Regions from separate parts of the Homo sapiens genome. Here regions 2, 3, 4 and 5 are each reported to be linked to region 1. The links are microRNA targets in miRTarBase. Many come from high-throughput screens and were not tested one by one. Region 1 holds a microRNA gene; each other region holds the end of a gene's coding sequence.
The links. Region 1 holds the annotated microRNA hsa-miR-142-3p (UGUAGUGUUUCCUACUUUAUGGA, at 3,302-3,324, opposite strand). A microRNA usually pairs through its seed, bases 2 to 8, with sites in the 3' UTR of a target mRNA and lowers its output. Matches are read on the target gene's strand: a 7mer-m8 pairs with bases 2 to 8, a 7mer-A1 pairs with bases 2 to 7 and ends in A, and an 8mer does both.

Region 1 (5,106 bases):
CCCGGGCCGGGGGACATCACCCAGCCAGGTGGGGGGACTGGCGAGGGTCATGCCAGGCCAGCCCCTCTCCCCTCTGAGCTCTTGCTTCACCGACGCTCCATCCAAGGTTGGCTGAGCTCTTCCCCACCCACAAAGGAGGCTGCAGAAGGCGCCAGGGCTGCTGGAGCTGGAGCCAGGGGTATGTGAGCTATGTTTGCTGGTAGCTGTGTGTGTGCGCGAGTATGTGGAGGAGCGAGGGTGTCCCTGTGGGGGTAGGGAGGATGTGCAGAGGCCACCGACAGCTGCGCCTGGGTGAGGGTGCGTGTGTGTGTCTCCAGGTCTGTCCGTGCAGGTCAATGCTGTCTCATGTGTTGGGAAGATGGGTGCCCCCACTTCTGTGTGTTGAGGGGGGTGGTGCTGTGTGTCACTGTCTGCCCATTTCAGAGTTGCCAGTTGTTTGTGTGTGTGTGTGTGGGTGTCTGTATTGCAGGGCTGTGGCAGTATGTGATGCTGTCCCTGGTTGTATCTGAGTGTGTCAGTGTCGTGCAGCTGTGTGCATCGGTGTCGTTGTGTGTCTGTCAGTGTCTGTGGGTCTGGCCGTCTGTCGCAACCCCTCAGCCCGGCCAGAGGCTTCAGGAGCTGCTGGGGGTGATCCCCAGTGGTCCGCTGTGGTCCTTTATCTCCGGCTCTGCTCTCTGCTGCTGCTCTTTCGCTTGCTGGGTGGCTGGGCTGGTCCTAAGGAGGCCTGGGTCGATGGGCTGCTTGCCTCATAGTCTCAGCCCCTGCTGGCCTCTGCTCTGGGGACTGCAGGGGTCCCTTACAGTCCAGGAGCCTCGAGATGGTGGGCTCCGAGGAGGGCTGAGCCTCAGAATTGGGTGGGGGGGTGAGCCGGGAAGAGCCAGCCCTCCCCTCCTCCTCCTCCTCCTCCCCTCCCACCCACCAATAGGAAGTCGGCTGCTGGTTTCCATGGTGATGGCGCTGGACTGGTGGGCTGAACCGGCTGACAGGGTCGGGGACAGAAGGAAGAGCAGGTTTCTCACGGCATGTCAGCCCAGGGCTCCCACATGTGGCCTCCCACCCTCATCTTCACACATTCTCACACCTTCCGGAGTACAGAGGCGAGTGGGGTGCAGATGGTCCTCCCTACATCGGGTGAGACTGATAGAGACAGAACGGGGGAGGGTATGACAGAGATCCAGCCACAGAGAAGGGCAGAACTAGAAAAGATGGGACTTGAGATGAAACAAAGAGAGAGACAGAAACCAAGAGAAAGAAACCGGGAAGACAAGCAAAGAGACAGGTAGAAATAGACGGAGAATTCCTTCTGCTTCCTCCTGGCAGATTGCACTTGGGGGGCAACCTGGCTGTCCCAGGCCACCAGGGAAGCCCACATGGCCTGTTGGGTTGGCTTTGTCCCGAATTGCCTGGAAGTTCATCTTCTGTCTAGCCTTAGATCTTGTTGCTAAATAATTTGGGGGACAAGGACGTGAGAATCCCCTCAGCCAGGAGTCAGTCTATATGCAGTGGCAGGGGTCTAGACAGAGTCCCCAGAGCCAGGGGTGTTGGGAGAAGCCCCGAGAGGCAGCCCCTCTCCACTCTGAACCCGGGACTCATTAGGCAAGCCAGTTTCAGCCAAGGTCGGGGGCCCTCGTGTGGCACCCCCACAGAATAGCAGCGGTGATACTGAACCCTAGAGCCCCTGACTGTGGGCTCCACCCAGGCAAGAGCCAATGGAACTGGAGGTAGGGGGTGCATGGGGAGGAGTGGACATCTTCACTTCCCTAAAGCAGTGTGTAGGTCAACACGCACGCCACTGCATGATGTGTTGCTGTTTAGGTCAGAGTATATATGCATGCCATTATGCGCATGCGTGTGTATAGTATGCATCTATAGAATAGACATTATCTATTTCTGTATATGTGAAGGGGCCATTGTGTGTATATATGTGTGTGCTATTATGTGTCTATGAGTCACATAATAAAACGTAACAAAAACACATTGGGTGTATCTGTATGTATGTTTCTGTGTCATTGCATCTATGTTTGTTTGCCACTGTGTCTATGTGTGTGCTGTTATGTGCATGGGAGGCTATCATTGCATGAGTTTATAAATTACAACACATCATGATATATATAGATATGGATGCTACTATATGGCACAATGTAGTAATTGATTACACAATATATGACATGCTCATATCGTCATGTAAATATGCATAATGACATGGTTTGATTTATATATATATATCACCATGTATCTATGTATTCTATATTTATCATGATATATGAACATGTCTCTATCTATGTATGTGTATGGAGCCACCGTGTTTATTATGCAAATGTCACTGTATGTGTGTGCTCTTCTATGTGTAAGACACGCCCTATGTTTCTATCATTGCATGTGTGTACTACTGAATATGTATGTGCCCTGGGTGTGTGTAATCCCTGTGTGTGTCATGCCAGTCATGTCACATGTGTCTGTGTGTGTGTTACTGGCACACTGAATGGGGCCTCTGTGTGTAAATGCATTTGCATCTCAGTGTGTGCTTTGTATATGAGTGTCTGTGCCCTTGTCTAAGATGCTGTGTATGTGCCACAGTGGATTTTGCCCAATTTTTATATGACCTAGGACCCCCTAGACTTTCTTAGATTAAAACTGGATGTAGGCAGCTTTCAGTTTGGGTATGTAGGGGGGCAGGATAGGGCCAGAGCTAGGGTAGAAGGTGAGAGGATGCCTTACATCCCTGCCCCTTTCTGCAGATGGCCCAGGCCCTTCTCTCCTCCGGCTGTGGCCTGGCCAGGCCCAGAGCCCTCTTCTGATCTCATAGGCAGGGCCAAACCCGTATCTTCTGGAGGAGCGACAGAGGTTCTCCCTCCCAGCCCTTCTGTGCGCCCATACTGTCCATGTGCCTGCCGCCCGCATTCAGCTCCCCACCCCAGCAACAGAGTCTCAGACAAAAGAGAAGCACAGTCCAGTCTTTATTAGCATTGGGTCCCTGGTCCCACCACCCATTCCCCTCCACGTACCATCCCTTCCCACCCCTTCCTCGTCCTTGACGCTGCGGCTGCATCAGGGTTCCACATGTCCAGCCCTCCCCGCCCCCAAAGACTGCAGGGCAGCAGAGGAGCTGCTGTGGCCTTTCCCCAGCTGTCCGGAACCAGGAAGGGCAGGAAAGCCATGGAGGCCTTTCAGGCATCTGGGCAGGGTAGGGAGGGGCCGTAAGGTGCTCACCTGTCACACGAGGTCCCCGAGCGCCGAGGAAGATGGTGGCGGGCAGCGGGCGGCAGCAGTGGCGTGATCTCCGAAGCCCACAGTACACTCATCCATAAAGTAGGAAACACTACACCCTCCAGTGCTGTTAGTAGTGCTTTCTACTTTATGGGTGACTGCACTGTCTGTCTGTCCGTCGGCGTGTACTCTTCAGGCTGCCCAGGCCTCCTGACTCCTGCTCCAAGAGCCCCCCAGCCCTCCTTGTGGCTTCCTAAGATCCCCCCAACCCTGCCAGGGCCCCCCGAGGGCCCGCCCTGGGCCTTGTGGGCGGTGACTCAGCATGGCGCCAGACTTGCCTCCTCTACCTCCCTCCCCCACTTCCTCTTCAGTTCCCTCTTCCCTTCCCCCTAAAGGCTCCACCCCATCCCCCCAGTTTCAGAGACACTCAGGTAGAGACTAGGGCCTCTGGAGGCCTCACCTTCAGTTCTGTGAACCCCTGGCTGGCCGCTTCCAGCCACGCTAGCCACCCTCCAGCGTCCAAATGAGGCAGCCACAGCTCCCCTGCCAAGGTCTTGGTCTCCAGTCCACCCCAACCGTGAGGTCCTGACTGCCCAGAGCCTCAGTCCCCACCCTTCAGCCTCCCCACCAGCCCAAGATCCTGACCCCCCAGGGCCTAAGTCCCCAGCCTCCCCAACAGCCCAGGGTCCTGACCCCCCAGGGCCTCAGGCCCTGGCCTCCCCACCAGCCCAAGGTCTTGAACACACCAGGGCCTCAATTCCCAGCCTCCCCACCAGCTCAAGGTCCTGACTCCCCCAGAGCCTCAGTCCCAGCCTCCATAGCAGCCCAAGGTCCTGACCCCCCAGGGCCTCAGTCCCCAGCCACTCCACCAGCCCCAAAGTCCTGACTCCCCAGAGCCTTGATTCTCGGCCTCCCCACCAGCCCAAAGTCCTGACTCCCTCACTGCCCTGCTGTTCCCCTGGCAGGAGCCCAAGGCTATCCCAACAAAAATGGTGGCCATGTTGGGCGGAGGAAGAGGCTGGCGCCCCTTGAGACACTGGTCCCACTTCTCAGCCTCTGCGTACCCTCTGCCATCCCCGCCTTACTCTCCAGCCCTCCTCCTTGGACACCTCTTTCCCCGCCTGGGGTCCCGGAGCCATTTTACCTTCCTTCACTAGAGAGGGTTTCAAGGCGCTTTGCCCTGAGCTTCCCGCATGGGGCTTGCACCCAAGCTCCTCGACACCCCCAACGCGCCTCCACCCAGACCAGCAGCCCAAGCCCCTAGAGGCCCCGAGCTGAGGAGCCCCAGTTGGGGCAGCAGTGAAGGTCCGGATCCTTACCTGAGGCTGCAGGGCGGAGGAGAGCTCGCCCTGTGCTCCAGGCTCCGAAGTGGGGTTCCCTTCAGGGAGGGCAGGGCTTATAACCCCGAGGCCACGTGGGCCAGATCTCAGGGCGCCCAACGGTCTCAGAGCGCGCCCCGCCCCCGCCCGCAGGGGATGAGCGCCCTCCCTCCCTCCCTCCCTGGGGAGGACAGACTGACAGGAAACAGAAGGGGGTGGGCCCGCGGGAGGGCTGGGGACCCTCTCTCATGCCCTGGGCAGGTGGCTTCCGGCCCCAGCTGCCCTTCCCCCCGTGGCACCAGCTCCAAGGGATGGCTCAAGAGCCTGGGACTGACTCAGGGCATTGAGGGTGACCCCAGAAGACCAGGGCTCCTCGACAGGGCCCTCGGTGAGTGCCCAAAACGGGGAGTCCAGAATTCCAGCACAAGAAAAGGACCTTCTCTCTGAGCCCCACCGCTGCTGACCTCAGCCCAGAAAACTCCCTTCCCTTCCCAACACTCAGGCCAGGCCCTGGCTCCTCTGCGTGTGCTCCCGAGGGCCATGGAGGTGCTGATGCATGAAGGGCGTCCATGGAGACTGT
Region 2 (5,106 bases), not on the chromosome of region 1:
TTATTTATGGAGTAAACCTCTGGGGATATTCTGAATCAGATTATGCTAGTAGCAACTTTTGAGAAACTGCTGTCCTGAAAATGACTGATGGAATAGGAGCAAAATTTTAAAATCTCACTTATCACTCTGACAGTAATGATAAAGGAGACATAGCTGCATCTGAATTAGTCCTACAAATGAGGGGAAATGGTCCTCAATAAAGGTTAAAAACAGGGCATGTAAGAAAGCTGTAATAGTACTAGTAATTAGTGCCCTCTAAAGCTTTCTCCGAGGAAGTCTAATGAGAGTAGTTCAGGTTCTTCTTTACAGGTATCATAGTTGTAACAATTCCTAAGATTGGGAAGGTGGCATGAAATCCACGGAGGCCCAGGGCAATAAACAGGGCATCAAAGAGTAAAGGGAAGGCCTTTGCAGGCCCAAAGCCTTCCTGCTGTCTCTGTAGCTCCCAAAGGCCTCACCTGGTCTCAGGTCACTTCAGATGGGTCCTCCCTCCAGAAAGAGTGAGGTAAATTCTAGTAAAATTACCCGATTCTAGCCTGTTAGTGCAGCACATTACTTACTTTTTATTAAATCATAGGCTTAAGAGCTTCTCATCATCTAAAGAAACTACCTTAAGCTAGACACGTGTGTATTGAGAGACAGACAACTTTTAACATACATCTGCTAATTTAGGATGTCCAACAAATCTTAGTTTTTTTTTTTTTTTTTGAGACGGAGTCTTGCTTTGTTGCCTCAGCTGGAGTGCAGTGGCATGATCTCAGCTCACTGCACTCCACCTCTCGGGTTCAAGCTATTCTCCTGCCTCAGCCTCCTGAGTAGCTAGGATTACAGGTACGCACCACCATGCTCAGTTATTTTTGTATTTTTAGTAGAGACTGGGTTTTACCATGTTGGTCAGGCTGGTCTCGAGCTCCTAACCTTAAGGGATCAGCCCACCTCGGCCTCCTAAAGTGTTGGGATTACAGGCATGAGCCACTGTGCCTGACTGTCAGTTGTCACTGAGTATTGAGGCTACACTGGGGTTCCAGTAAACTACAGCCCATAGGCGCATGGCCTGCAAAGCCTAAAACATTTACTATCTAGCTCTTTATAGAAAAAGTTCACCAACTTCCAGACTACACTGCAGTATCCCAACTTGAGAGAGGCATATATACATATATACATACATATATATATATATATAAAATGTATACTGAATTGTTCTCAAGAAAATAAGTCACCCAAAGAAGGTATTATGTATGGCTTTTCATTCATTATACCTTTTAAAACATCTTATGTCCCCAGTACCACACTCAGGCCACACCAAATATAAAGGGTTACAAATATTCAGATTTTATTATAAATAAAATACTGTTTTTCTTAAAACATAAAAATGCCAAGTGTTGCATTTTATTAACCACCCCGGAGAGCAAGGCTGTAGAGATTAAGGCAAACAGCTAAAGTGAAGGCACATATAAAAGGTCCACAGTTGGAATTCAAAGGAAAAAAATTCAGGGAAAAATAGCAGTATAATAATCCCTGTGTCAACCAGCATTCTGCAGCAGCCATCCTGTCAATTACATTACATAAAATACAGATAACTGGAGCTAGACAATAAAATAATGGCTGTGTTGCGGGAGTGTAATTAAGGTATCATCTTGTAAAGAACCTTTTATTTTAAAAAATAAAATTCTGCTTAAAAAATATACCACACAGGTGGAGGAGAAAAGCAAATAACAAAAAGAAAGTTAAAAGGAAACCAAACCAAACCACCCCATTGTGGCCTGAGACTTGCTGGAGTGAACTTCACCCAAACTAGCTTGGCAGTCAATCTTCAGTCCTCTTCTGCAACCTTGACCAAATGCATATGTTAGGATGTAGCCACTTAATGAAATGAACTAGCCAGGAAACAATGACGTGAAAACTTTGCAACAGCACGCCACATCTCCTGCCATAGTAGAAGAGGCCTGGGAGAAGCAGCAGAGTGAAAGCTCAGGAGTATATCGTCAAAACACTTGTGGTAAACTCTGGTATATCCCAAGCAGATGGAAACAGGAAGTGGGATCATCAAGAACTAAGTTACACCACCTCTCCCAGTCTACCCATCAGTAAGTAGCACTGTTCCTGATGCCCTAAGTGCTCAGTCAAAATGTACTCCCTTATAAAACTTACCTATCCAGCTCCAACAATTGCCAGAAAGGGCATTTCTCCCTCATTCCTGGCTAGTCCCACTGTGGCGTCAAAGATCCTCTTCAGCAAACTTTCCTAATCCTACCATAGCTTGTCAACCTGGCGTTCCTGCTCTGGAACATTGTAAAACCACCGTGCTGCAGGTTAGGATCATCAGGACTGCAATGGAAGAGGACCCAAGTTACCTCTTTACAGTGGCTGGGTGTGGAGGAAAGCAATTATATTAATTTTAGAGAATGGAGATGCTGCAAACACAAGGCACAATTCTTTGGAGTACAATCCAAAGAATTCTAGAAGGGAGGGAAGGAGGTATTCAGATACATTGTGCCAGTGAAGAGGAAAAATTGAGCAAAGTGAACAGAGTGTCATTCTAGAAATAGGACTAAGTATATTTACATAAATTCCTTATTCTATAATCATGATAAACAAAACACAAAACATTCACACAAAAATATAAATTTGAAATAATTAATAGCACCAGTGTGTCAGATAATAGTTTCTTTCCCCCCACCCCGCCCCTGCTACGCAAAGTACAAAGTTGCATAGTGTTAAAGGCTATATATGAATCTCAAAGGTGGGTTGGTAGGAGGAAGGGGGTGTGTGGCAGGGAACTGTCACACTGTGGTCTTAAAACCACAGAGCTGAGGATCAAAAGTTGAGAAGCCCACTAGGAAACTCCACGTAAGGGTCTTCCCTCTACACTTAGAGGGAAGGTTTAGAGTGGATTTAAATCACAAAGTGCAGGAACTCGATAGCGTTGGCAGCTGTGTGAAATACTGAGTGCAAGTATTTGCCACCAGGATTTGGCAAACAATGTTTTTTGAGGGATTCTGGAAGATGGAAACATCAGAAGAAAACTGGAGCTAAGGGTCAAATGTCTCATCTCTCCAACAGAAGAACAAATGGATACACGGGATTCTGACAGTACAAGCTGCCATCTAAGTTTTATCCCTTTGCTAGAAAAGACTAGGACGAGGAGGCTTGTTTTTCTTCTGTTTTGTCAAGACCTTAGGGATTAACTGTTCTCTGCCAGATACTTAACACTAGTTCCAAGACTAACTAATAAAAAAGCTGTAAGAATTAGTTTGATTTTGAAAACAAAATTTTAGTGGTTATCATATCCCTATTTCTTCTGTGTAAGTTCCATTTATAAGAATATCAAAAGATGTCTTTTGGTCTATTGGTGAGTGCAAGCTGCCCATCCAGATTTAAATTATCAGCTGCCCAAAGATCTGAAAAAAAGTTCATCTTCCTAGTCAATTATTAATATACTAGAAAAATCTTCAGCCATGTTCACCTGGAGACTTTTATAAATAATTGCATCCTGACCCACGGATGGCTCAGTGTCCTACACTCATAATAACTAAAAGCACTGATGGATGGCTACCGACATTCTAAATGACCAATACCTTTGGCACAGGATGTTTATTTCCTTTTGCTTAGAAGGAAGAGGGGTAGGAGATGCAGATGCATTTTCTTTATCCATGGACTGGATATACTGGCCATCACAATGCTACTGTTAGTAGCCAAACTTTTCCTTCATAGAAACAAGAGTACTGAGACTGAGGAGGTTCTGCTGGTATCGATGAGACAGGGGAGGGCTACTTGCTCTACCCCAGCATACATGGGCTCACACGATGTGCTTATGCCACTGTACAGTAACGTAGGATGCCACGTCCTCACGCAAATCAGAAGGGAAAGTGTGGGTAAGGTAGCAACGTGAATGGAAGAGACACTTTATTAGATAAAACCCTTTGTTCCCGATTCAGGATGTTTAATTTGCTTCTCTTTAAACTCTGTGACTTTTCCTGGTTCAAAAGGACAGTCATGGACAGCAGCAGAGGAGTGGGGGTCTGAAAAATGTAATCTTTGTGTCAAGGCACTCTGTGGCCTCACAACTGCCCCCCTGTCAGAGGGATGCTGCCTTCCAGCCCTAAAGACACTAGGGCTTTTCAATGGACGGGGTGTTGAAGCAGCCAGATGGTAAGGTCTTCCTGATGTCCTCCAGATTGCGAATGTCCTTCATGATCTCCTCGATATCTCGGTTATAGTCCATGATGGCAGCCTCCTGCTTCTTGGCTTCATTCTCCAGGTCAGACACTTTCCTATCAAGATCGCTGACCTTCATTTCATCTTTGGCTTTGTTTAGGGTGCCTTCAATCTCGTTTAGCTTATTCAGGTCCACTGTATCCAGCTGCCCTGGAGGGTCAGAAAGTACATAGAAGAGAACAGACATATTCAGTAAGAATGATCCCTTCACAAGTACCTGCACTAGACTCTAGGCCCAGCAGCTGCCATTCTGCACAGGCAGCCCGGCAAATGTGACTTGCAGATTGTTGATGTCACACAATGGTATAAAATATGCAAACCAAGTACAAATGCTGACCTAACCCAGCAGGGATGGGTCTGAGCATACAATTAATATAGAGCTGGATGTTTCTTTCTGAGACAATGGTTTTTGCAGAATGTTTCCTCAATGCACAGCTACCATGTTCTAGACCTTTGAGGGCCATCTGATAACATTTAATACCTTTTCCAGGTGTATACATGTAAACTCTATGTCATTTTAGTGCCATCAAAGATACACAAATCTCTAAGAACCCTAATCCCTCAGCTCTTAGAGAGATTCCAGGGAAGATGGGTCAGTTTTGAAGGTCACTTTCTGCTTTCAGGAGTTAGACACTATTAGGAGCCTTCCTATGGAAAATGGCCAGGAGTAAAATGCTGAAATAATTTCAGCAAGTCTTCACTTTAAGCTTAGCAAGAAAAAGAGGTTCTTTTGAAAGAAATGAGATGTTTCCATAACAAACAAAAGCAGACACAATAGACAGCATTTCATGCATACTTGACTTGATTAAAGTCTCACAAGACCATTTTACATCAGTGATTCTCAGATGTTAAATAATTTGCCCAAGTTTGCACAGCCTATAGGCAACA
Region 3 (5,106 bases), not on the chromosome of region 1:
AAAATGATCAAGGAGATCGCTACACTTAGGTGACCAACAATATAAACTGTAGACTAAACTTCAGCCACTAAAATTTTTATTTAAAAAGTGAGCGATACATTTCTCCAAATTGTAGTATCAATATGGAAAATAAATATTATTCCAAATTTACAGGTTATTTTATTGTTTTGCAACCTTTAACATTCACTTTAAAATAGACAATTTTGCATGGAAATGTAGGTTGTGCTCTAAGTACATCCTAAATAACTAAATTTAAAATTGCTTACTTACTATTCTCTTAAAAATTGAATCTTTATAATATACATATGGTCTAGCAAATTATGTATTTGCCACACTATGTATAAAAATCTAATATTTTTCTTTTACAAAGAAACACCATGTTGATTTAATCCTCTCTTCGGTAGACAGTGTATGTCTTTTATGTTAATTAACCAATCTTAAAGTTATACTGATAAGCAAACTTTCCAGTTAAAACCAATGTTTCAGTGCATTAAAAAATACCGATGTTCTCCTTAAAACCTACAACATACCATGTGAAATCGCATGGCATGAAAACAACAGTGAGAAAACTGTAGCCATAACACAGAAAAAGGACTGTGATGCATATATGGTTTGAGTGCACTTAAAAAGACAAAACTTAGATAATTAAGACGTGAATGAAGCATTTCTCTTTAAATTCAGCAAGATTCAGCTTTGCAGCCTGGAAAAAGATGTTCTGCTCACATGAAGAATCAATGTTATTTCTTCACAATTTGTATTTTCCATCTCTGACTTGAAGTTACAAACTTCAGCAGGAATATTTATGACTAATTATAAAGCATCTGTTACACACTGAGCACTGTCATGTTTGTTTGCTACATTTATATATAAAAGCATCCACATGACTTATGAAGCTTCCCTAGTACTTACTGAAACAAATTGACTCAATAAATAAAATTTACTTTTGTTACTTATAAAAAGTTAAGGGAACAATAACTAAAGTAAGCCTATATATGGTTCTCCCATAGAAGCTAATGGAATGTTTTAACTAAATAAAATGTAACAATACACAAATTGTGGAATTATATCTAAAAATAATTTTGTTTGCATGATGAAATTTTACAAAAATTATTCTTTTAACTACAAATCAGCTCAGATTAAATACTTCATAAACTATAAAACAAAAAAATAAGAAACAAAAAGATTATGGGTCTAGCATGAGTATCATGCAAGTAAAAACAAAATTTACATGGAAATATTCTAAATGATAAGCTATAAGATAGGTGTATAAATTGAATACAAAGCAGAGAGTATACATTTGCTTTTATTTTATTTTTTTAATTTTTGTATTTTTAGTAGAGACGGGGTTTAGTAGAGGTCAGGGGTCTCGATCTCCTGACCTCGTGATCCGCCCGCCTCAGCCTCCCAAAGTGCTGGGATTACAGGCGTGAGCCACCGCGCCCAGCCTACATTTGCTTTTAGCATTTTTGAGGATTTTTGTTTCCTAGTAAATTAGACATCTTATTAAATGCTTTGTGGTTTCAATATTCCTCTTTTCTCCTGAAAATAGTTACAAACTTACAGTCAAACAAACACACTTACTCCTTAAACCTAAGTTATATCTTTAGACTAATAGATGTGTATATTTAACTCTATGTAAGTCAAAACTAAAACTCGATTATGTGCTTTCAGGCAGAGGCCACATGTGCAAAAAATACATAATAAATTTTTGAAAATTATTCAGGACTCAGAAATATATTGATTTTATTTACACTTATTTACAATTTTTATGATGACCATAAAAATAACCATGTAGTCAATAACAATTTAATTGTACAATTTAGAATAACTAAGACTGTAGAATTGGTTTGTAATACAAAACATAAAAGCCAGAGGTTATAGGTACCTTATTTATCACAATGTGATTATTATATATTGTATGACTGTATCAAAATATGCCATCTATGGCATAAATGTATACACATATTATGTACACACAAAAACTAAGAAAAATTTAAATGTAAAAAAAATTTAACCTGCAGGAACCATATTCTTTAACTTATTTGCAGTTTAAAGCCACTGAAAAAGAATACTAGAGATGTTAGTCTATTATGTTACCAAATAGTGTATTGTTACCATCTTTTAAATATACCCTTAAGTAAGGTGGAATAGGTTAAAACTAGTGGCATAATAACACTTTATTGAATGTATAACAGTATTTAACATGTTATAAATGTTGAAATAAAAAATTAACACATAATCTAAAACTTTAAAAATGCAATTTTATCACATAAAAGTACAATTAATAAAATGACATACTAATTTAATTAATTTTAACTATAAAATATGTTATTCTCTCATAATATTCTCTCATAATACTACATTAGTACATCACTTAGAGCCAGGTGCAGTGGCTCACACCTATTATCACAGCACTTTGGGAGGCCAAGGCAGACAGATCACATGAGGTCAAAAGTTCAAGAACAGCCTGGCCAACATGGCAAAACCTTGTTTTACTAAAATACAAAAATTAGCTGGATGTGGTTGTGGGCACCTGTAATCTCAGCTTCTTGGGAGGCTGAGACAGGAGAATATCTTGAACCTGGGAGGAGGAGCTTACAGTGAGCTGAGATCATACCACTGCACTCCAGCCTGGGAAACAGAGTGAGATTCCCTCTCAAAAAAAAAAAAAAAAAAAACTCTGAATGCCTACCTCATACATCACTCAATTCTATAAGTTAATCACAAATAGCCTTCCTACTTAGATTTTCATCGTGCATCTTACATTTTAATGTCCTTAGTCATCCATAAGAAATGTCATAATGACCATGTAAAAAGTCTCCCAAATCTTTGATGCAGAAAGAATTGATCACATGCTTTTATATGGGAATACAAGAGAAATTAAGAAATAGCATGAAGCAATTTAAGAGTTGAATTCCGTCATTATTCAGTTTCCAAATAAGCTTTTTTTTTTCTTTTGAGACAATCTCATTATCACCCGGGCTTCAGTGCAGTGGCAAAATCTCAGCTCACTGAAACCTCTGGCTCCCAGGTTCAAGTGATTCTCATGCCTCAGCCTCCCAAGTAGCTGGGACTACAGGTGTGCACCACCATGTTTGGCTAATTTTTGTATTTATTTTTAGTAGACATGGGGTTCCACCTTGTTGGCCAGGCTGGTCTTGAACTCCTGACCTCAGGTGATCTGCCCATCTTGGCATCACAAAGTATTGGCCTTACAGGTGTAAGCCACTGTGTCTGGCAAAAAAAAAAAAAAAAAAAAAAAATCGGTATTTTTAAGATAAAAGTATACTTTAAATGTAAATGTAACTCTTCAAAGGTCTACTTCTTTCAAAGTCATATACAAATAATTTTTCTTTTTAACAACTTTAGTTTTGGATTTTTTCCTATACTCAGCAGTCTGATTTAGTGTAATGTCTGAAGTTTGAGAGATAGGTATTTCTACTGTGAATTATCTATATTTACATAAACAATTTTGGATTAAATATTTTTATATTTACTGTATCTGCAAAAATATATTTTAGTATAAACTCTTTTGTGTTTTATAATTCTGTAGTTTTTGTAAAAATGTTTTTCCAAATTTATTAAATTTGCACGGTCATTCAATATAAATTCCCTGATGTTTAGCAAAGTTGGAACAACTACCTAAGGTTTTCCTGTAGTACAAAATGTGTACAATAAAATCTGTGATACAAGTAAAGGCACTACAACCCTCTTTATATTTGTAATGTTTTTCCTCAAAATAAATATTCTTCTGTATTTTAAGGGCTTTTATTTTCTGAAAGATCTAGTGACAATAATTGTACTTTTAATACTTTATTTAATATGAACTCTCTGGTGTTGAATAAGATGTGAGAAGATATTAGTGGCATTCACAATTTTTTTTTCCCAGTCTCTCTGTTGCCCAGGCTAGTATATAAATGCTTTCCTTTGCAATAAGGCATGAGTATTGGTTAAATGTGTGCCACATTGTTTATTCTAGTAGTTTTCTCCAGTATATTATCTTACCTACAATCAAGTGTGACAGCCATTTAAAGGCTTTGTCACATTCTTCACATTTCTAGGATTTCTCATTCATATGATTTCTTTTATATTCAGAAAAGTCTGAGGTGTTGCCAAAAGCATTGTCACATCTTTCAGGTTTGTAGAGTCTCTCATGTATGAATTAGCCTATGTTTCTTAAGAATTGAGGATCTGTTAGAGGCTTTCCCACATTCTTCACACATGCATGGTTTCTCTCCAGTATGAGTTGTCTTATATGTAGTAAGCCTTAAGGACTGGTTAAAGGCTTTGCCACATTCCACACAATTATAGGAATTCCCTCCAGTATGAATTACATGAATGTTTAGTAAGGATTGAGGAACAGCTAAAAGGCTTGCCACATTCTTCACATTTGTAGGGTTTCCCTCCTGTATAAATTCCCTTATGTTCAGTAAGGGTTGAGAACTAATGAAAAGCTTTGCCACGTTTTTCACATTTGTAGGGCTTTTCCTCCAGTATGAATTCTTTTATGAGTAGTAAGGTGTGAGGAACAGTTGAAGTCTTTATCACATTCTTCGCATTTGTAGGGTTTCTCTCCAGTATGAATTCTCTTATGTTCCACAAGGTTTGAGGACCGGTTGAAGCCTTTGTCACATTCTTCACGTTTGTAGTGTTTCTCTCCAGCATGAATTTTCTTATGTGTAATAAAGATTGAGGACTGTTTAAAAGCTTTGCCACATTCTTCACCTTTGTAGATTTTCTCTCCAGTATGAATTTTCTTATGTTTACTAGACTGAGAATCAGCTGAAGGATTTACCACATTCTTCACATTTTTAGGGATTCTCTCCAGTATGAATTTTCTTATGATAACTAACAGTTGAGGATGACTTAAAAGCTTTGCCACATTCTTCACATTTGTAGGGTTTCTCTCCAGTATGAATTCTCTTGTGTCTAGTAAGGCTTGAGGATCTGCTGAAGGCTTTGCCACATTCTTCACATTTGTAGGGTTTCTCTCCAGTATGAATTATCTTATGTTCAGTAAGGATCGAGGACCAGCTGAAGGCTTTGCCACATTCTTCACATTTGTAGCGTTTCTCTCCAGTATGAATTATCTTATGTTTAGTAAGG
Region 4 (5,106 bases), not on the chromosome of region 1:
ATTAGGTGTAGTTTTCTTTCAGCAGAGAAGCAGAGGTAATTTTGCTTTTCCTTATTTTTCAAAATCTCTATAGTCAGATTTTTTTTAAATACATACTTTAAGTTCTGGGATACATATGCAGAATGTGCAGGTTTGTTACATGGGTATACACGTGTCATGGTCATTTGCTGCACCCATCAACCCGTCATCTACATGAGGTGTTTCTCCTAATGCTTATCCCTCCCCTATCCCCCCACCCCAATAAGCAGATTCTCTTTTATGGGGCATGAGAAAACAAAAGATGTTTTTATTTGTTAAGTAAAAGATACTAGTCTCAACATTAATCCCCTAGTGATTATTATTCATTTGGGTAGATGTTGGATAGAGGATGAATATGCATAAAAAGTCATTTTTCAGTTTGTTGTACTTAAAATAATTTCGTATATTAATGCGCTTTTATTTTTATTTTTTCTTTTAGGAAGCTATCATACAAATAATGAAAATGAGAAAGAAAATTAGTAATGCTCAGCTGCAGACTGAATTAGTAGAAATTTTGAAAAACATGTTCTTGCCACAAAAGAAAATGATAAAAGAGCAAATAGAGTGGCTAATAGAGCACAAATACATCAGAAGAGATGAATCTGATATCAACACTTTCATATATATGGCATAATTTTGAATATCATGGACAATATTTAGAACCCAAATTTTGGAGTGCTTGGGCAGAAAGTTGTAAAGTTTGTGCTGGAGAAAGGTTTATTTGGACTTTGATTACATAAATATTAAAATCTCTGCCTTACCTTACAAAAACAACTATATTTTGCCAATCACATTAGTTAGCATGATGGCATTCCCTTCATGTTGCACACTCTTTGACAGCATGCTGTTTTGTGGAGAAACTTGCATTCATGAAGAGCCCATTATCAACTTTTAAAAGTGAATTTGATTTGTACCCACCAGGAGAAATACAGTTGGGAAGGGTGAGGGTGGGGTTCTTGTTGCTTTTTTCTCTTTTTTCCTCTCTTAAAAAATGTACTTGCACAAGGAAGGATCTTCAGATATTCATGCACTGAAAAATGCTGTTATCTTTTGTTTTTAAAAAATGCAATTAAAACTAGAAATAGCACTCTTGGTTTCTTTTGATGAAAAGAGTGAGCTGGTCAATGCAACATTGGGAAACGGCAGATGTAGGTGAGAAGTTAAGTATTTAATAGTATCAAATTGTTCAAACATTGCTCAGTATAATAACTGGATTTTAATGGTGACCTAAAAATGGTATTAAATATTTTCAACTTTCAAATGTTGGTTTTCTTTAAGCAGGAGACTGCTATTTTAGTTGTTGTTAAATGATGAGGAGTTTTTTTTTTTTTAAATATGGCTGGAAAGCTTGTTTTGAAAAATGAAGCTTATATTAATTGTTGCTTCAATAGTTTAAAAAATTTATGGAGATAGGTAGGTCATTATGATTGCAGAGCCAAAATAGCAAAACAAACATATTAAGTGTGTTTACTAAACATATTGTGTGTTTACTAACACACTTAATGTTTATATACCTAATATTTATTATGCCATATCTGAATTTATTAAAAACAACACAGAAATCTCCTGCTCTGATATAGTTATGTAACTGATCTCTTAATCTGTAGCATAGAAGTATTTTGGTATTTTAAGGTCTCATGATTAGGGATTTGTAGCCTCAGGTTTGAATCAGTCACCTAGGGGTAAGAGAAAAACCACAACATAAGACCTGAAAAACAGAAGCAAAATTGTTGCACTCTTAATACGAGCAGTAAACTTGCCAAATATATGTACATATATATTTATATATTTTAAAAATAAACATTTTTTAAATCGTCAGAAGGCAACATTTACCATGTTCCTTTCAGTCTATCCAAAGTAGCAACTTAACTAGTTGCTGGCAACTGAATACCCAGAGTAGTGGAAATTTTAGGACTTGAGGACGTGAACAACTTGAAAGAGAAAATTGATTCCCCTTGAGGAAAGAATGGCTCAACGTGGATTTTTATTCATTGTGGTGCACGTTTCAAATTTTCTTGCAAATTATTTTATATCTTATTTGATGTTAAGTAATATTTTTAAAGTATGGTTTTTGAAGATAGTAGGAAATGGAGTACAGAAAGGCATACAGTATTATGTTACAGTGGAGTGCTTTCAAGAGCATTTCGTAGGATCTGTCCCCATCCGAAGAGGCTTTGTGAACTGCCTGCTGAATGGAAGGAAAGCAACTTTAAAACATTTAGAGTTTTGCTGAGTATAGCCAAATGCCTGTTCTGAAACTTATAGGAAATTGGAATTTTGTTTAAAATTTTACACTTTAAGGTAGCAAATGTCAATTATTAGACCGAGCATATTGTGAAGAATTAAACTAAAATTAATACGTACAGTTTTCTCTAATTAGGTGACTGTTCATAATGGGTATATTTGGAATTTAGAAGAAATAATTTTGTAGTAATTGTGGCCCTTATGTTTAACAGATAATTCAGCATTGGCGTATTTGCTTGTCCCAATACAAGAATGCCAAAGGAGGAAACAGGAAAAATTGCCGTCCATTTTAAAAATTTAGGTTTGTTGTTTTAAACCATAATTGTTCTCAGAACTTTTTTGGAACTTCTAATTTTGGGTCATTTAATTTAAGAATGAGAGTCATGATGTTTTGATTTATGAAGGTGAATTTAATGCAAAAGTGGGTAACACTACATTCATAGCAAAGTTTTTTATTAAATTTTATAAATTTTTAATAGCCAATTATGTCCTAATTGTATTTTGGGGAATGAACAGCAGCAAATACTGTAAATGTACAGTTTTCTTTTTTTTTTTTTTTTGGTTATGTATACAAAAGTTTTAACTACTTTTTGGTGTTTATGAAAATCATTTAGTTGACAAGGTGCCTATGCCATTGTTAAATTTTCTTTAAGTAATTTAACAACAGATTTGCTAATTTAAAAAAAAATGAAAAAAAAAATCTTACCAGCAGTTTGTAAAGGTCTGGAATCACAGTTGGCATCCTTTATTCAGGTCTCTTCTCTCCAGCGTACACTTAAAATTGGTGCCGAGCAGGGATATAACCTGCAGTTAAGTGAAAAGAAAATCCAGCCTCCCCCTCCAAAAAAAAAAAAAAAATTTAATTTTTAAAAATTAGTGGTATGGCAATAAGACACTTCAGAGGCTATCTTAACCTCTGAATACCCATCTTCTAGTTTAAAGACAGAGACATCCCATCTGGAAAATGTTAACTTGTGTTGCCATCTCGTTGCCGGAGTAAGTAGACATAAGACAGAGTTTAAGAAGTAAAAATATAGAAAAATTTTGATGGTCACAATGAGATAAATATTAGAATATTACTATTCCAATGATTAAATGAGGATCTTGAAATAAATTCTGAAGTCTTCCAATTTTTACATTTATTGGAGGGGTCCCTGAGTTCTGTCAACTTTTTTATTTAAGTCTCTTGCTCTTATTTTGTGCATAAATGTTAAACCTTCCAAAAATGAAATGTTAGCTTTCTTTCTTTTACTTTTTATTAAATTTAATAGAAAATATGACCTGAGTAGTTAAAAAGTATTTTGCATTATTTGCAGTAAGATGTCTCTAGCACTGCTCAAAGGGCAAATTTTAAAACTTCAGTCTGGGTGAAAGATTTGCTAGTTTTACAGAAAGATTTGCTATCTTAAACTCAAGCTGGTTTTTCTGTTCTCATGTAAGTGACTGGGATGCTGTCTTATGAATTCTTCCAAGGTCATGTTTGTGAAATAAACATTACATGAGAGCTTTCCTGTCATCTACACTATATGTTGTCTGGAGTGTTGAACAAATTTATTTTAGTTTCTAAGTTGTAATCTATCCTCATATGGTCTATACGATTTTGAATGTGTGCCACTACATACTGAGATGATAATGCTGTACAATTTTAAGTGGTAGCAGTTTCTGTATGCAGTAGGCTGAAATATTTTGATGAACTGCTTAATTTTTGGATTTTATTTTTTAAGTTGTATAATTTATTTTCTTGCAAAATAAAAATGTAATATAAAAGCTTTTACCTATCCAGAAAATGTTGATGTTCTACTATAAAATAGTTACAAAGAGTTTAATTAAAATTTTTATAGTAGGTATATTTTTAAATTTGAAGGTAAATTAATCTCAGCCAGCCTTAGGAATCAGAAATATGAAAAGTAACCCACTTATTTATATTAGACTTCAAATTCTAATTCAAAATGAGAGCAGTCAGGAATGTAGCTTTTCCACTGATGATAGCATGTGGCTATATGCCTGGAAGAGGTAATAAAAAAAAAAAAATTCCAACCTGAAAGTGGTTAATATATTCATCAACTAAGATAGGCTATGTCATAACAAAATTCAAATTTTATAGCAGATAAAAGTAAAAAATGGGCCGGGCTCAGTGGCTCACGCCTGTAATCCCAGCACTTTGGGAGGCCAAGGTGGGTGGATCACCTGAGGACAGGAGTTCAAGACCAGCCTGGCAAACATGGTGAAACCCTGTCTCTACTAAAAATATAAAAATTAGCCGGGTGTAGTAGCGCGCGCCTGTAGTCCCAGCTACTCGGAAGGCTAAGGCAGGAGAATCGCTTGAACCCGGGAGGCGGAGGTTGCAGTGAACCAAGATTGTGCCACTGCACTCCAGCCTGGGCGACAGAATGAGACTGTCTCAAAAAAAAAAAAAAAAAAAAAAAAAAAGTAAAAAATGTAAAACATAATCATTTCACATTTTGGATATATTTGAAAATTTGTGAAATACTTATTTTTGTTTTTATTTTTATTTTTTGAGACAGAGTCTCACTTTGTCACCCAGGCTGGAGTGCAGTGGCGCGATCTCGGCTCGCTGTAAGCTCCATCTCCTGGGTTCATGCCATTCTCCTGCGTCAGCCTCCCGAGTAGCTGGGACTACAGGCGCCTGCCACCACACCTGGCTAATTTTTTGCAGTTTTAGTGGAGACAGGGTTTCACCATGTTAGCCAGGATGGTCTCAATCTCCTGACCTCGTGATCTAGCTGCCTCGGCCTCCCAAAGTGCTGGGATTACAGGTGTGAGCCATCGCGTCTGGCCTGAAATACTTATTTTTAAGCTAGAAATAGTTTGGCAATAAGGTTG
Region 5 (5,106 bases), not on the chromosome of region 1:
AAATTTTCTTTCTCCCTCCGCCTTCCTTAGGTCTCCAAGGAGATCTCTGAGTCCACGGAGGTCCCCAAGAAGGTCAAGAAGTAGAAGTCATCATCGGGAGGGCCATGGGTCTTCTAGTTTTGACAGAGAATTAGAAAGAGAGAAAGAACGCCAGCGACTAGAGCGTGAAGCCAAAGAAAGGGAGAAAGAACGGCGAAGATCCCGAAGTATTGACCGGGGGTTAGAACGCAGGCGCAGCAGAAGTAGGGAAAGGCATAGAAGTCGCAGTCGAAGTCGTGATAGGAAAGGGGATAGAAGGGACAGGGATCGAGAAAGAGAGAAAGAAAATGAGAGAGGTAGAAGACGAGATCGTGACTATGATAAGGAAAGAGGAAATGAACGAGAAAAAGAGAGAGAGCGATCAAGAGAAAGGTCCAAGGAACAGAGAAGTAGGGGAGAGGTAGAAGAGAAGAAACATAAAGAAGACAAAGATGATAGGCGGCACAGAGATGACAAAAGAGATTCCAAGAAAGAGAAAAAACACAGTAGAAGCAGAAGCAGAGAAAGGAAACACAGAAGTAGGAGTCGAAGTAGAAATGCAGGGAAACGAAGTAGAAGTAGAAGCAAAGAGAAATCAAGTAAACATAAAAATGAAAGTAAAGAAAAATCAAATAAACGAAGTCGAAGTGGCAGTCAAGGAAGAACTGACAGTGTTGAAAAATCAAAAAAACGGGAACATAGTCCCAGCAAAGAAAAATCTAGAAAGCGTAGTAGAAGCAAAGAACGTTCCCACAAACGAGATCACAGTGATAGTAAGGACCAGTCAGACAAACATGATCGTCGAAGGAGCCAAAGTATAGAACAAGAGAGCCAAGAAAAACAGCATAAAAACAAAGATGAGACTGTGTGAAAATATTTTGTAAAAGTGGATCACATTGAATCCTATAAATGATTAAATCTGCTTTTTTCCCCCACGTTGAGATTGTGCAGTAGTTCGCACTCCTCAAGCTCTCCCTGTAGGCTGCATTTTCATTTCCTCTTTCGTGTAGGGAAGTGCCTTTGTAATTCCATTTATTGCATTGGTGTTTTCACCCAATTGTTAAGTTTGATACATGATGCACAGATTGTTCTTGCATTTTTATTGTTTGTTTTTGAAATGTACAGTCTGTACATATGTCCTGAAAATGTTTTAATTCCTTTGGCATGGTTGCCATGTTGGTTAAATTTGTATAAGGCAATAAACTGCCACTAATCTATTTTTGTTTTGTAGGTGTGGGATTATGGTTTGTGTACTGAAGTTAGCATGGCTGTGCTTTTCGTAATAGAATGCTAAAGACTTTGAGAATGGATCTTGGATGTCTATTATAGGAGAAGTATGTGCTGCCAATGTACAAGAAGGCAGCATTGTAGGATTAACATTCTTGTCTACTGTATATTATCTTGGAAGGCTCTTGTTAATATGTTACACTTAATATTCTCCACAGTTACCTTTAGAGAGAATTTATGAGAAGTTAGTTTCTGATGCAGAGGTTTTTAGGCTGTGATTTCATCAAAAGTCCTTTTAGCATTCTACCTCAAAGGGACACTTAGTATGCCTAAAATTTATTCACTTAGTTTTCCTTTTTTATTTGAAAAAATACATGACATGTAATCTTTTTTTCTTGAATTCTTTCTCAGATTTTAAAGTACTATATTAAAGAAAAAAATTAATGTCTAAAGCCTAGCATTCTTGCAGAACCCTATACTAACATGTAATGGGGAGAGGGTGGGGCAGATGAGTAGAGAAACAGATTCAAGCCTCAAGCTTCCAAAGCATTTTTATAAATGGAAAATCCTTAAATTATGAAACAGCTTGATATAGTGTCCTTTTTTTAAAATTCAGAACTTTTTTTATTGATAATGGAGATTGCTGTTTGAGTTTTTAAACTTAATCTAGAACAGAGGAGTATTAAAAGTAATGCTGTGCTGCATTATTTAAGACTATCAGCAAATTATTTGATAGATTGTTCTTACAACTTGTATTCTGATTACAGAACCATCATGAGTGTGGAATAAATACTGGATTAAATCCTTTATCCTGGGTCTTGGCTTTTCCCCCATTTGTTAAATTTTTTTAGCATATTTATATTGTGGAAATTGATGAAACGTCAGTAGAGTCACACTTTGTGTACAGGGATGTCTTAGTGCCCAGATGACAAGTGAATTTTGGAGAAATGCATAGACTGGGATTGGGCATGTGGTAATCAATAATCTTTATTAGAATACTTGATAATGGCAGTTCCCTTTGTCAGTGGTTGTTACATGTGTCATTTGATTACTTTGTTCCATGTCAAAGACGTTTATTGGGATACCTTTTACTTGGACAATATGTTAGCATTTTTTAAAATTTGGACTTGAAATTCTTTAAGATAATTCACCCAATTCTTTTTAGAAAAGAAAATAGAGGCCCAAAGTAATGATGTCAGTGCTAGGGCTAAAACTCAGTATTCTGACAGTGTAGTGAACCTGGCACGCACATTGAGGTTTGTTTTATCTCACTGGTTATACTGGCCAACTAATGCGCACTCAGAAGCCACCTTGCAAAAATGTTAAATGGAGCAAACGAGTACACTTGCAAGAGTCCTCCATATGTGGGCTTAACATATGTACCACTCCATTTTAGAAAAATCTCATTAAATGAATTCTTCTAAAAATGATATGCTTTTTTCTTTTTTAAGAAAATTCCTTTGTCTTTTAAATTGAGCATCAAGTGAATTAGTGCTATAGACACCCAGAAGTTAGAAAAACCTATTGTATAATATGAAAGCCACTAAATTTGTCTTGTGTTGAAAATCTACTTTTAGCATACCTAAATTATGGAGCTACTACTTTGGATATGGTTCCATGTGAAATGTTTTATCTGACTATTTTAAGTAAAATGTGGAAAGAATTTAAATTACTTCACATGGAGGTGAAAGAACTATCACCTCGATTGACAGTTCGATGATCGTCACTACATTTGATTTCTTGTGGGTTTTTAGTTTGTTTTTGTTTTGAGACGGGCCTGGCTCTGTCACCCAGACTGGAGTGCAGTGGTGCAATCTCTGCTCACTGCAGCCTCCACTTCCCTGGCTCAAGTGATCCTCCGAACTTGGCCTCCTAAGTAGCTGGGACCACAGGTGCATGCTAGCACACCCGGCTAATTTGTATTTTTGGTAGGGTTGGGATTTCGCCATGTTGCCCAGGCTGGTCTTGAACTCCTGGCCTCAAGTGATCCACCCACCTCAGCCTCCCAAAGCGCTGTGATTACAGGTGTGAGCCACCACTCCAGTCCCTTCTTACGATTTTTAAATATGTTTGCTTTTGAGGAAAATTATGGTAGGTGTGAGAACATGTAAATTGTGCTAGTTATTGCTATATATATGCATGATTTATTTGGAGAGTGGCTTCCTAAGAAACTGGGAAAACAAGTGGCTATGAAAGACATCTCACATTTCTTGAAACATGAGAACATTTGGACACGAACATCACACGCCGGGGCCTGTTGTGGGGTGGGGGACTAGGGGAGGGATAATATTAGGAGAAATACCTAATGTAGATGACAGGTTGATGGGTGCAGCTCACCACCAAGGTACATGTATATCTAGGTAACAAACCGGCACGTTCTGCACATGTATCTGAACTTAAAGTATAATTTAAAAAAATTTTTAATACAGCTTAATAAGCATCCTCCATCCAGTTTTTGTACTTACTGGAATGATTTCACCTTTCCATGTATTAAAATCTTTTGCCTGTTTTTAATGTTCAATTTGCAATTAAATTCTATACATGGGCGAGTATATCATCAATCTTAAACTTTTAATATAAAGTGTTCATTTTAATATTGCCCTGTTTTTATCTCCTAACTCTGATTTAGTTCCTCAGTTCCTCTAAGGCAATGGTTGTTTTGAGTTCTGGGCCCACTTTTTAGTAATCTGATGAAAGCTACCATCCTGTCTAAAAAAAAGTACCCCACTAGGTGCAGTGGCTCACATCTGTAATCCCAGCACTTTGGGAGTCCGAGGCCAGTAGGTCACCTGAGGTCAGGAGTTTGAGACCAGCCTGGCCAACATGCTGAAACCCCATGTCTACTAAAAAGTGGAAAATACGGGCCGGGTGTGGTGGCTCATGCCTGTAATCCCAGCACTTTGGGAGGCCAAGGCGGGCAGATCACAAGGTCAGGAGTTCGAGACCAGCCTGGCTAACACAGTGAAACCCCGTTTCTAATAAAAATACAAAAATTAGCCGGGTGTGGTGGTGTATGCCTGTAGTCTCAGCTACTTGGGAGGCTGAGGTAGGAGAATCCCTTGAAACCAGGAGGCAGAGGTTGCAGTGAGCTGAGATCACGCCACTGCACTCCAGCCTGGTTGACAGAGCAAGACTCCGTCTCAAAAAATCAAAATACAAAATACAAAATACGCCGGGTGTGGTGGTGCACGCCTGTAATCCCAGCTACTCCGGATGCTGAGGCAGCAGAGTCGCTTAGAACCTGGGAGGCGGAAGTTGCGGTTAGCCGAGATCTCACCACTGCACTCCAGCCTGGGCGAGAGAAGGAGGCTGTGTCTCAAAAAGTACCTTAAAATTTGTGTGTAACTTCAAAGGAACTCACAAACTGCCCTAGGACTTTGGTTCTGTTCATTAACTGATTTTTTTAAAACTATGCTTAGATGTACAGTGTTTGGGAATTAATAAACCAGAAACTTAAGTTCCTAAGAGTACTTAGGCAGTTAGTTGCAAAGGCAGTATCTGTTTTGTTATTTTACTTAGAGCTGCAGAGGAAGAAAAAAATGACAATGGTATTCACTTAATTCTCTTCCCTAAAAGTTGTGCTTTATTATAAAGTTTTTGGTTAGTAGAGATGAGGTCCCACCACTGGCAGTTTGTACATCTTTCAACTGATGCCAACGTGCAACCTCAAACACTGACTAGTGGACCAATTCTCAGGTGATATTGGCCAACTGATGGGCGTTGATTCTGTTCCTAGTTTGATTCTATTACGTAAATGCTGAAATCAGCCTTGAATGACTAAATTATAGGACCTCTTAAGTAGAGATGATTTTACGTGGCAGGAAACGCTTCTTGGTAGTGTCACTCTGAAATTTCCCCTCC

Region 2: the mRNA of LAMC1 is a reported target of hsa-miR-142-3p. The part of its 3' UTR that is shown has no 7-base or 8-base seed match.
Region 3: miRTarBase lists ZNF676 as a target of hsa-miR-142-3p. Seed matches in the 3' UTR shown: 8mer at 4,645-4,652.
Region 4: miRTarBase lists CUL5 as a target of hsa-miR-142-3p. Seed matches in the 3' UTR shown: 8mer at 2,691-2,698 and 7mer-A1 at 3,875-3,881.
Region 5: the mRNA of PRPF38B is a reported target of hsa-miR-142-3p. Seed matches in the 3' UTR shown: 7mer-A1 at 2,970-2,976.

What each region holds. Positions count from the first base shown.
Region 1 is chr17:58,327,944-58,333,049 of GRCh38, forward strand. MIR142 (microRNA 142) reads right to left here and starts at 3,375; the gene lies at 3,289-3,375. It overlaps TSPOAP1 (TSPO associated protein 1), which reads right to left and starts at 852. Exons shown (of 32, transcript NM_004758.4): 1 at 1-852. It overlaps TSPOAP1-AS1 (TSPOAP1, SUPT4H1 and RNF43 antisense RNA 1), which reads left to right. Exons shown (of 5, transcript NR_038410.1): 2 at 107-178. MIR142HG (MIR142 host genes) reads right to left here and starts at 4,577. Exons shown (of 1, transcript NR_186557.1): 1 at 2,945-4,577. RefSeq lists silencers at 1-14, 4,585-4,894 and enhancers at 725-794, 1,325-1,494, 1,595-1,674, 3,465-3,604, 4,405-4,474 and 1 more.
Region 2 is chr1:183,141,796-183,146,901 of GRCh38, reverse strand. It overlaps LAMC1 (laminin subunit gamma 1), which reads right to left. Exons shown (of 28, transcript NM_002293.4): 28 at 1,310-4,368. The coding sequence ends at 4,112. Among named protein-coding and RNA genes, the nearest start is that of LAMC1-AS1, 3.1 kb to the right of the region's middle.
Region 3 is chr19:22,175,139-22,180,244 of GRCh38, forward strand. ZNF676 (zinc finger protein 676) reads right to left here. Exons shown (of 3, transcript NM_001001411.3): 3 at 3,951-5,106. The coding sequence ends at 4,812. It also overlaps the pseudogene VN1R85P. Among named protein-coding and RNA genes, the nearest start is that of ZNF676, 19 kb to the right of the region's middle.
Region 4 is chr11:108,103,733-108,108,838 of GRCh38, forward strand. CUL5 (cullin 5) reads left to right here. Exons shown (of 19, transcript NM_003478.6): 19 at 458-4,029. The coding sequence ends at 652. Among named protein-coding and RNA genes, the nearest start is that of ACAT1, 15 kb to the right of the region's middle.
Region 5 is chr1:108,699,132-108,704,237 of GRCh38, forward strand. PRPF38B (pre-mRNA processing factor 38B) reads left to right here. Exons shown (of 6, transcript NM_018061.4): 6 at 31-3,797. The coding sequence ends at 889. Among named protein-coding and RNA genes, the nearest start is that of PRPF38B, 9.4 kb to the left of the region's middle. RefSeq lists an enhancer at 4,382-4,471.